Linked DNA regions of Homo sapiens: regions 2, 3 and 4 are each linked to region 1. Evidence: fine-mapped expression QTL. A gene starts in region 1. Each other region holds a variant in brackets. All regions are shown on one strand. Distances are between the middles of the regions. Region 1 holds the start of PLEKHO1 (pleckstrin homology domain containing O1). Region 2 overlaps VPS45 (vacuolar protein sorting 45 homolog). Region 3 overlaps VPS45 (vacuolar protein sorting 45 homolog). Region 4 has its middle 27 kb from the start of LINC02988.

The links.
Region 2: its variant is fine-mapped to the expression of PLEKHO1 in whole blood (TOPMed, PIP above 0.99).
Region 3: its variant is fine-mapped to the expression of PLEKHO1 in whole blood (TOPMed, PIP above 0.99).
Region 4: its variant is fine-mapped to the expression of PLEKHO1 in whole blood (TOPMed, PIP 0.99).

What each region holds. Positions count from the first base shown.
Region 1 is chr1:150,148,538-150,151,224 of GRCh38, reverse strand. It overlaps PLEKHO1 (pleckstrin homology domain containing O1), which reads right to left and starts at 1,309. Exons shown (of 6, transcript NM_016274.6): 1 at 938-1,309; 2 at 167-313. The coding sequence starts at 967. RefSeq lists silencers at 1,002-1,081, 1,222-1,681 and an enhancer at 869-1,369.
Region 2 is chr1:150,088,803-150,091,489 of GRCh38, reverse strand. The region is part of intron 10 of VPS45 (vacuolar protein sorting 45 homolog); the gene reads right to left. Among named protein-coding and RNA genes, the nearest start is that of VPS45, 22 kb to the right of the region's middle. The variant A/G (reference allele first, on the strand shown) is at 1,067.
Region 3 is chr1:150,123,573-150,126,259 of GRCh38, reverse strand. The region is part of intron 14 of VPS45 (vacuolar protein sorting 45 homolog); the gene reads right to left. Among named protein-coding and RNA genes, the nearest start is that of PLEKHO1, 25 kb to the left of the region's middle. The variant C/T (reference allele first, on the strand shown) is at 1,454.
Region 4 is chr1:150,186,429-150,189,115 of GRCh38, reverse strand. No RefSeq gene overlaps it. Among named protein-coding and RNA genes, the nearest start is that of LINC02988, 27 kb to the right of the region's middle. RefSeq lists a cis regulatory region at 2,012-2,298. The variant C/G (reference allele first, on the strand shown) is at 1,672.

The sequences.
Region 1 (2,687 bases):
TCTCATTAAAGGGTGGCCTTTCTCTGCAGATGAGATGGGGGTAGAGAGGAGACCACTGAACTTGCCTTTGGAACAAAACGGGGGTGGAGTAAGCTAGGCGAGCCCTTGGGGAGTGACAAAGTGGGGGCTATGAGAAAACGGAGAGTTAGAGGCAAGAGGCACCCACCTCCTTCTCAGAGATGTAGAGCTGGTCCCCTTTCAGCACCACATAGCGGTTTTTCCAAATCTCCCTGAAAATCCCTTTCCCGCAGAATTTCCGGACCCAGCCGACCTTCTCGGGCGGTGCAGGCTGCTGGTTTCCATCCTGAGGTCCCTGCCCCAGGACAAGATGAGAAGCGGGCGGTTAGGAGATTCCAGCCGGCGCTTCCTCTCCGTCCGTCTCTCACGACCGCCTCGGCGGCCCAGTCTCCTCCGAAGGCTGCGGCCGGGGGGCGGGGGGCCGCCCCAGGTTCGCTCCCACTTCGGAAAGGTTTTCACTCCGAGGAACTCCCCCCGCTCCCCTCCCCCGCTCCCGAATAAACAACCGGGGCTGCAAGTGGCAGGGGCGCCGGCCGGGCGCGGAGAGGCTCCCAGGTTCCCTCCAGGCCCTGCGCCCCCGCCGCCCCGTCCTCGCCGCGCGGGGACTAACGGCGTTTCTCTGGTTTTCTCTCCCATTGTCTCCTCGCCACGGCGGAGCGCGAGGCAAACGCTCGCCCGGCGCCCGGGGGCGGGGGAGGTGCGGGTCGTGGGGAAACTCAGCCAAGTTGAAGCCCCCCGAGGCGAGTAAACAAACAAAAGCCCCCGCGGGCGCCTGGCGGGGCCGAGGCCGAGGGGACCGGGCCGCCGGGGCGGGGGCGCGGCCGGGCCGTGGGTCTCCCAGGCCGCCGCGGCGCCGACGGAGCGGGGGTCGTCAGAGCGCGGAGGCGGCGGCGGCCGCAGGGCGGGCAAGCGCACTCACCCGCTTGGCGGAATTGTTCTTCTTCATCATTCCCAGCGGGCGCGGGCGCGGGGCGGCGAGCCGAGGGGCGGCCCCGCGTCGGGGCCTCGGCGGCACCGCGGGGGCTCCTTCCCCGCGGGAGGGCGTCGGAGCTGCCCCGGCGCCGCCGCTCCTCCCTCGCGCCCTCCCGCTCCCGGACTCTCCCCTTCTTTGTAGCTCCGGTTTCACTCAAGGCCGGCCTCCCTCGCATTCGCACTCGCACACACACGCACGCCCGCTCCCCGCCCCTTGGCGCCCTCCATCCCGGCGCCCACGCGGCCCGGGTCCCCGAGCGCACCCCCGCCACCCGCCCGCCCGGCCCAGCGCGGCCGCTCCCCCGGCCCGGTGCGCTGTGGGCGGCCCAGTCCGCACCCCGCAGCTCCATCCGCGGGCCGCTGACGTTGCGAGTTCAGAATAAAGGGCGAATCGCGGAGCCGCAGCTCGGGCGCTCCCCCCGCCCCCCCGCCTTTGTTTCTGACTCACGGAGGGGGAAGAAGGCGGCTTCGAAGCGGCTGGAGACCGCTCCCCAGGGGGCAGGGACCCTCGCTCCGGCGGCGGCTCGGGCGACACGCGGAGCCCGAGAGACCCGGCCGCCGGCCGCCCCGGGGCCCAGTGGGCGGGCGCGGTGGATAATGGAGAGACGTGCGGATTCGTGAAGACTGGAGATCGCCAGCCTCTACAGCATCGCCTTACCCGACCAAAAACAAAAACGAGAGCGGGAACCGGGAGGGCGCGCCACCCACAACCCGCATCAGGAATTCACGCTCCTAGGTGCTAGGGTGGCCTGGGCAGGTCAGATGCTGGGGGAAAGTTTTATGCTCCGGAGGGGATCGACGTGTTGGGGGATGGGGTGGGACAGAAGTTGCTATTAATACACGTTTCTTCCAGCGTACAATGCCTCAGGCCTTATTGTAGCTTCAGGAGAATAATCCTAAGGATGAGGCGGATTTTATGATCTCCATCTCACAGGGAGAAAACGGAGACTCAGAATAGCTGAGGGATTTGCAGACACAGTGTCGATGCTGGCTTTTCAGACACAGTGTCAATGCTGGCAGGAATAGAACTCTGTCTCCAAACCATTATCCTTTCTACCAAGTGGCTTTCAATATAAGTTCCAGGTGAGGCTTAAACTTCCTGCCACCTGGGTATCTTTTCCCGCTATACTGATAGGTAAAAACCCCACCCTCTCTACAGCGCTGGAGCCCAGTGGAGGGAAGGGCTGAACGCCCAGAGAATGCCCTGACTAGAGAAGCCTCTGCTGATCCCTCCTACAGCAGATCTGCCTCAGAGCCTCCAGGACACATCTTAGTAACTTCATGTCTTTTTAATATATATACGTGTGATGGAAAAGGGGAGTGAGAAACCCCGCGCTTGGGTACTGGTTTCATCACCACTCTGGGCTTTGGTCAAGTCACTGAATTTCTTTAGGCCCGCGTCCCTCCACGTATTAAGTGGTGAGGGATGAACTGCCATTTTTATCAACAAGGAAAGCTAGGGGAAGATATGAGATGACCTCTGAGAGTCCTTTGAAGATATGTGTTGTCTTCCAGGGCTAATTTTGAAATCATAATAAGCTAATAAACACATTGCCTGGCATATGGCAAGCATGCAGTAACCACAAAATGAATAAAAATCCCTGGCACTGAGGAGCAGGGAAAAGGAAAAATCATTTTTCCAGAGATGTCTCAAGATAAAAGTGTTGGCTAGATTTGTGGTTTGAATAGTGGAGGCT
Region 2 (2,687 bases), 60 kb after region 1:
AAGCATCAGAACATGTCTCAACATGGTTGACAGAGATGAGTATGTAATAGCATGTAATCTCTAGATTTAGTACTTAATGATTTTAAGAGGCAGGTACCGATAGGAAAGGGGGCCAGGAGAAGCCATGTTTACATTTTTTAATCCTCATATTCAGGACCTTCCATATAGTATAGATTTATATTTATTATGCAGCAGAACAAATAATTTAATTCAAGTCAACAAATACTTTTGAGTCCCCATAAGGCAGTATGTCATGCACTGTTGCAGGCACACAGATAAGTTAAAGACAATTCCTGTCCCCAGTGAGTTCACAGTCAATGGGGTGAAGGATGATCAAAGTAATATAATTTATTCTGCTATATACATGTTTCTTTAATGTACTTTAGTTCTGTGAGATGGATAAATATGGAAATGGTGTCAGTTTAACACAGAAGGCATATTGGTTCACATGTAATTTTTCCAGAATGGATAGGCTTTCTTATGATTAAAGGGGAAGCCTTACCAATACCTTAAGAAAAAAAGATGATAATCCTACAGAAGTGTGTTCTGCAAGAAGTATCTGGTTTTGTAGCTTCAAGAACTGTTGCACTTTCCACTGTGTTATGCTATATGGGGAAAGGGCAAGTGCAAATAAAAAGGATGCAAATATATTGCACTGTGTAAAAAAGCAAAACAAAACAAAATAACAATCAAACACTGATTGATGAAGAAAGCTGTCTCCATATGGTATTTTTAATTTTGACAAAGTAGTCTTTATGAGAAGTGAGTATTTTCAAGACCTTATAATTTGAAGAAAACATGAGCCCCAGGAATAAGGCTGCAGAGGATGGACTGGCTCTATTTCTAGGTGCAAATGCCGGTGGAGATTTAACCATGCTAGTATTTTTATTATAATTGTTACTATTTTTATTAGGGCTCTGATTTAAAAATTATATGAATGTTTTCTTTCTTTCTATAGTCATGTAGATTTTAAGTGGTCTGCTTATAACCCTATATTCTCATAACCCTTTTTTTAGTGCATGTTTTTATAGAATATGAGGTTTTTCAGGAACAAATATGTGGTGTT[A/G]TAACAGAAACATGTATGCAAAAAACAAAACAAAAAGCAAAAGCTGAAAATCAGTGCAAAAGAGGAAGGGGAGAGAAAGGGGAAGAGAAAGTATATTGGGTTGTTGAGAAATTAGGAAAGACTTCACAGAGGTGACACTTGCCAAAGGTCCTGAAGAATCAGTAAGTATTGGAACCAGTGTGAGAGACCAAAAGCAGTGGCACTATCAAAATAAATATGGAAATCAGAGGAAGAAATGGCTTGGTTTGAAAGGCTGGCAAGAGCCTTGAAGGGCACTGAATTCTGAGGACATAACTATCAACTATATGATTACTTTACAACTTACAAAATGCTTTCACGTACATTATCTCTTTTGTACCTGACAACAACCATGTCCAATGTCTAAGAGCTCTTCTGTTCACACTGACTAGGGACTATGATGATAATGGGGAACCTCCCATGTAGCTTTCAAGTACAGAGTTCTCTGAAAGAGATTTCTATTGTTGATTTTTTGGGTTACTATTTCACTACCATCATCCTTAAGGGATCAAAAAGGGAGAAACTTCTCTTCTGTAGATTTCGATCCCAAATTCGTAAGATTTTTCTTATTTTTTTCCTTTCATGGGATCTTTCCCCTAGAGCAGCCACGGAATACAGCCCATTTAGGGTATCTGTTCAAATGTTCCACTATTTTCTACTATAATATGAAGAAATTTCAGGTACAAATTATGTATGTATCTCAATCAACAGCGTAAGTTTAAAACATTAAGAAATCCTGTTGGGGGCCGGGTGCCATGGCTTACACCTGTAATCCCAACAATTTGTGAGGTCGAGGTAGGTGGATCACTTGAGGTCAGGAGTTCGAGACCAGCCTGGCCAACATGGTGAAACTCCCTCTCTACTAAAAATACAAAAAATTAGCAGGATGTAGTGGCGGGTGCCTGTAGTCTCAGCTACTCAAGAGGCTGAGGCAGGAGAATTGCTTGAACCTGGGAGGCGGAGGTTGCAGTGAGCCGAGATTACGTGCCACAGTACTCCAGCCTGGGCGACAGAGTGAAACTGTCTCAAATAAATAAATAAAAATTTTAAAAAATTTTTTTAAAAAGAAAAGAAATCCCATTTGGGATTTCTGTTGTTACTTTTCTTATAGGCACAATGTCTCATTTCCTGCCCTTGCAGTCACTCTCTTACCACCTTTTCTGGCTGATCTGTCTCTGTACTTTTAAGCAAATCTGAGAAATCCAAGTAACTATAAATTCACAAAACTGGTATGATGACAGTCAAAGACTATTTGCAGTAATCAGTCTCTGCCCTTTTCTATTTACCTTCACTTGGATCTTGACTCTTGGCTGTTTCTTATTAGAGATAGTAAGTGTTGTTGATGATGACGTGGAGAAATAAGAACCCTTACACACAACTGGTGGGAATGTAAATTAGTACAGCCATTATGGAAAATAGTATGAAGATTCCTTAAAAAATTAAAAATAGAACTACTATATGATTTAGCAATCTAACTACTTGGTATATATCCAAAGGAAATGAAATCAGTATGTTGAAGAGCTATCTGCACTCCTATGTTTACTGCAGCACTATTCAAAATAGCCAAGATATAAAATCAACCTAAATGTCCATCAACAGATGA
Region 3 (2,687 bases), 25 kb after region 1:
CAGCATGGGCGACAGAGTGAGGCTCTGTCTCAAAAAAACAAAACAAAACAAAAACCCAACAACAAAAGCCATGAAATTAATCCCATACCTTAGAATATATAATGCTAAATTGCTTTCTAGGAAAGTTATACTAATTTATCCTTCTACTGGCAATATTTCAGACTGCCTCACTATACGTTTATCTTAAACCTTTGTCCCCACCGAGATGGGGACCAAGTTTTATCAGTACGTAAGATGTTTATTGAAGCATTATTTATATTAAAAATGTAAGCTTGGCCAGGGGCAGTGGCTCATATCTATAATCCCACCACTTTGGGAGTCTGAGACGGGTGGATCACAAGGTCAGGAGTTCAAGACCAGTCTGGCCAAGATGGTGAAAGCCCGTCTCTACTAAAAATACAAAAATTAGCTGGGAGTGGTGGCAGGCGCCTATAATCCCAGCTACTCGGGAGGCTGAGGCAGAGAATTCCTTGAACCTGGGTGGTGGAGGTTACAGTGAGCTGAGATCACATCACTGCACTCTAGCCTGGGCAACAGAGGAGACTCCATCTCAAAAATGATTAAAAAATATAAAAAAAATAAAAAATATATCTCCTAATGCTATCCCTCCCCCCTCCCCCCAGTGTGTGATGTTCCCCTTCCTGTGTCCAAGTGTTCTCATTGTTCAATTCCCACCTATGAGTGAGAACATGTGGTGTTTGGTTTTTTGTCCTTGCGATAGTTTGCTCAGAATGATGGTTTCCAGTTTCATCCATGTCCCTACAAAGGACATGAACTCGTCATTTTTTAAATGATGAGTTAATGGGTGCAGCACACCAACATGGCACATGTATACATATGTAACAAACCTGCACATTGTGCACATGTACCCTAGAACTTAAAGTATAATAAAAATATATATATATTAAAAAATAAATAAAAAAAGTAAAAAAAATAAAAAATACATATCCAATACAGAAAAAAGAAGATTTTGAATGTTCCCAATACAAAGAAATGATAAATGTTTGATGTGCTGTTATGCTAAATATCCTGATTTGATCAGTATACATTGTATACATGTATCAAAATATTACTCTGTACCTAATAAATGTGTAAAATTATTACATGTCAATTAAAAATTTAAAAAAGCAAAAAAATAAATAAATAAAAAATAAAAGTAAACTTGCAGCTGAATATGCTGGTGAAAAAAATGTAAACAACCTAAATGTCCAATGGTAATAGTTAAATAAAGACCCATCCTTAAAAATAAAATTATATAGCCATTAAGATTGTTTTAAAGACTTTTTAGTAACATGGGAAAATGTTCTCAAATGATTAAAGAAAAAAACTCTATAGATCTTATGTTAAAAACAAAACATAAACAAAATTCTAAAACATTTAGGTTAAAAAAATATTAGAAGGGGCTGGGCACAGTGGCTTATGCCTATAATCCCAGCACTTTGGGAGGACAAGG[C/T]AGGCGGATTACTTGAGGTCAGGAGTTCAAAACCAGCCTGGCCAACATGGTGAAACCCCATCTCTACTAAAAATACAAAAAAAAAAAAAATTAGCCAGGTGTGATGCTGCAGGCTTGTAGTCCCAGCTACTTGGGAGGCTGAGGCATGAGAATTACTTAAATCCGGGAGGTAGGGGGGTTGGAGTGAGGCGGGATTGTGCCACTGCACTCCAGCCTGGGTGACAGGGCGAGACTCTGTCTCAAAAAAAAAAAAAGAAAAAAGAAAAAAAGCCAACATATTAACAGTGATTAGCTCTGAGCTGTGGTATTATGAATGATTTTTACTTTTATAATTCATTTTTTTTTTCCAAGACGGAGTCTTGGTCTCTCACCCAGGCTGGAGTGCAGTGGCGCGATCTCGGCTTACTGTAACCTCTGCCTCCCAGATTCAAGCAATTCTTCTGCCTTAGCCTCCTGAGTAGCTGGGACTACATGTGCACGCCACCACGTCTGACTGATTTTTGTATTTTTAGTAGCGATGGGGTTTCACTACGTTGGCCAGGCTGGTCTTGAACTCCAGACCTCGTGATCCACCCGCCTCGGCCTCCCAAAGTGCTGGGATTACAGGAGTAAGCCACCGTGTTCAGCCTCATTTCCTTTTAACAATGAGCATGAATTACTTGGTCAAGGGGAATGCCTACTTTCCTTTACCTGTTTGCCAGCACTATCTGTCTTTGCTACTTATGGGGAAAATAATTGAAAATGGGATCATTAATTATTCTTTAGGTTTATAGCTAATGAGGGCTTAGTTGGATCTAGTACTATGACAAAGAATATACTATGTACAGTAATTATTATTGGCTTGAAAGGGAATCTGGCAGCGAGAGAATTGTTGCTCTCATGCCATCTTCTAGCAGGATATGTCTTTCTATTTGTCAAAAGTTTTAAGAAGAACTGGAGACTAAATAAAGTTCACATAGTGTTCAAGCAATGGCAGCGCTATTGGCTAATGAATTCACCTAGCCACCCTTTTTCCCTCTACTTCTATCCTGAATCCCATGAAGACAGGTATTTTTGCCTATTACGATAACAATTCCATCTATATGGATTGGGTTCTTGACCTCTCAGCTCACACAGCTAACTTAAAGGTGTCAATTACTGCTGGCAGGGACTAGAACTCTTTAATATTGATCGACCTGTGAAGTGCTAAGGCAGGCCAGCTCAAAATCCAAACCAAGATGCTCGTTTATTTGCA
Region 4 (2,687 bases), 38 kb before region 1:
CCACTGCTCCCGGCCCGATTATTCTTATTTTTTGTTTAGTTCTTCAGTGAAATCAACTAAGTCAGTGAGAAATTTGATGAGGGGAGGAAGTTAGTGACAGTCCAAACTCCTTTTTTATTTTTTAAATATCAAGTTCTCAGTAATTTGCAAGTGTTAAAATTCATAGAACTAGCCAGGCACGGTGGCTCACACCTGTAATCCCAGCACTTTGGAAGGCTGAGGCAGGCGGATCACGAGGTCAAGAGATCATGACCATCCTGGCCAACATGGTGAAACCCCGTCTCTATTAAAAACACAAAAATTAGCCGGGTGTGGTGGCGGACGTCTGTAATCCCAGCTACTTGGGAGGCTGAGGCAGGAGAATTGCTTGAACCCGGGAGACGGAGGTTGCAGTGAGCTGAGATCGTGCCACTGCACTCCAGCCTGGGAGACAGAGTGAGACTCCGTCTGGAAAAAAAAAATCACAGAACCAAGGTTTATAAGCATAATGCACTTGTATGAAGAATAATCATTCATAGCAGATTGGAATAAACCCTCCTAAATATCTTTCTAAAAGCCAGATTTGAAACTTATTTTGATATTTGATAAGAATTTTCATATTAGGCTGACAATCAATACAGGTTCCTGGTTGGCTGGCATTATTAATGCTGAGCCTTAACGCTTTGCTAGAGCCCCTCTCCTTTTTTTTTTTTTGAGACAGAGTCTTGCTCTGTTGCCCAGGCTGGAGTGCAGTGGGGCAATCTTGGCTCACTGCAGCCTCCCTGCCCCCTAGGCTCAAGGGATTCTCATGCCTTAGCCTCCAGAATAGCTGGGACTACAAGCACCTGCCACTGAACCCGGCTAATTTTGTATTTTTAGTAGAGATGGGGTTTTGCCATGTTGCCAAGGCTGGTCTTGAACTCCTGCCCACCTCAGCCTCCCAAAGTGCCGGGATTACAGGCACGAGCCACCACATCTGGCCAGAGCCCTTTTTTTGAGTACAAATGCTCAGACCTCCCTTCTTCCTTTTCCCTACCACATTCTCTGCATTTGGCTAGAAGGGCAAGCTTTGTTTGTGATGCACTTTGAAAGGAAGTGAAGAGGTCTAAGAGGTAAAGCTGGAACAGAAAGCTAAAGGTGTAAAAAATGTCCCAATGGCCAGGACTTTGCGGGTACGTGGAGGCGGGGAGCTGAAAATCTTAATTCTCTACCTCCTTGTTTTTCATGCAGAAATGAAGTTCTTTATCTCATTCAATGGAATTAGCCCAGAGAAGCCCTTTTCCCTTACAATTTTCAGGTCTAATGTGAATGTTTTGGACAACCTTTAGACTAATACAGTGGATCTCAAGCAGGGGTGATTTTGTTCCCCTGGGGACATTTAGCTGTGTCTGGAGATATTTTTGGTTGTCACACCGGGATGTGTGTGGGAGTGCTACTGCATCAAGTGGGAAGATGCCAGGGGTGCTGCCAAAACGTCCCACAGTGCACAAGACAGCCCCGCAACAAAGGGTGATCAGAATGCCAGTAGTGTGAAGGTGAAAAATCTTGGGTTAATAGGATATTATTTAGTTTTTGACAGATTTTCCATGCTTTGAGGTCAGTTAAAAGGGTAGTGTGTAAAATTTTTATTATAAAAGTATAAACACTAGAGGGCAGTACCTGCCCGATAATTGCAACGGATGTGACTTTGGG[C/G]GGGGTCTCTGAAGGAAAAAAAAAAGAAGCTAGTGATTTAGGTAACTGGAAGATAAGTGACTATAGGAGACCCTTAAAGAGGTATTTAAGTAATTTTAAATCAAAAGACAGTTTTGCTTGGTGTGGTGGTGTGCCTGTAGTCCCAGCTCTGCTTGAGCCCAGGAGATGGAGACCTGTCTGGGCAGCATAGCAAGACCCCATTTTTTTTTTTTTAAAGAGTTTTAACAACTACTGCTTCTGAGGTCAGGAAAAGCAGAACAAGCAGTTTTTTCTTCTGCTTTTCTATAATGATGGCTTGTGAGCTTTTGCCAGAGAAGGGAAAATTCACACTAGGTTTTCACACACACAAACACTAACGTCATTGCCACTTACACTTCTATTTGCTCTGATGAGGCAGATGATGGAAAGTCGCTATTCCTAGGGCATGTAGATCATTGTAATGCTGTGAGAGATGTGTCTGGAACAGGGGAACTTGGAGCAGACAGGCAAAACATCACGACTGAGTCCGTTAGACAAGTCAGAATCTGACTCAGCTCTTTTTTTTTTTTTTTTTTTTCCCGAGATGAAAAAAACCTCCAGCCCAGGCTGGAGTTCAGTGGTGCAATCTCTGCTTGGCTCACTGCAACTTCCACCTACCGGGTTCAAGCGATTCTTGTGCCTCAGCCTCCCCAGTAGCTGGGACTACAGGCACGCGCCACCATGCCCAGCTAATTTTTGTATTTTTTTGTTGTAGACATGGGGTTTCACCACATTGGCCAGGCTGGTCTCCAACTCCTGACCTCAGGTGATCCGCCTGCCTCGGCCTCTCAAAGTGCTGGGATTACAGGCATGAGCCACCGTGTACAGCCTGACTCAGCTCTTTTGAAACGGATCAATAATATCTAGTTTGTTGCTTGAAGCTATTTACATTAGCTAGCTATGCAAGAATGTAGTACAATTTTCTGTTTTCTCCTAAGGTTCAGTCCAATTTTAAAAAATGAAACAAATAGGCTGGGCGTGGTGGCTCACGCCTGTAA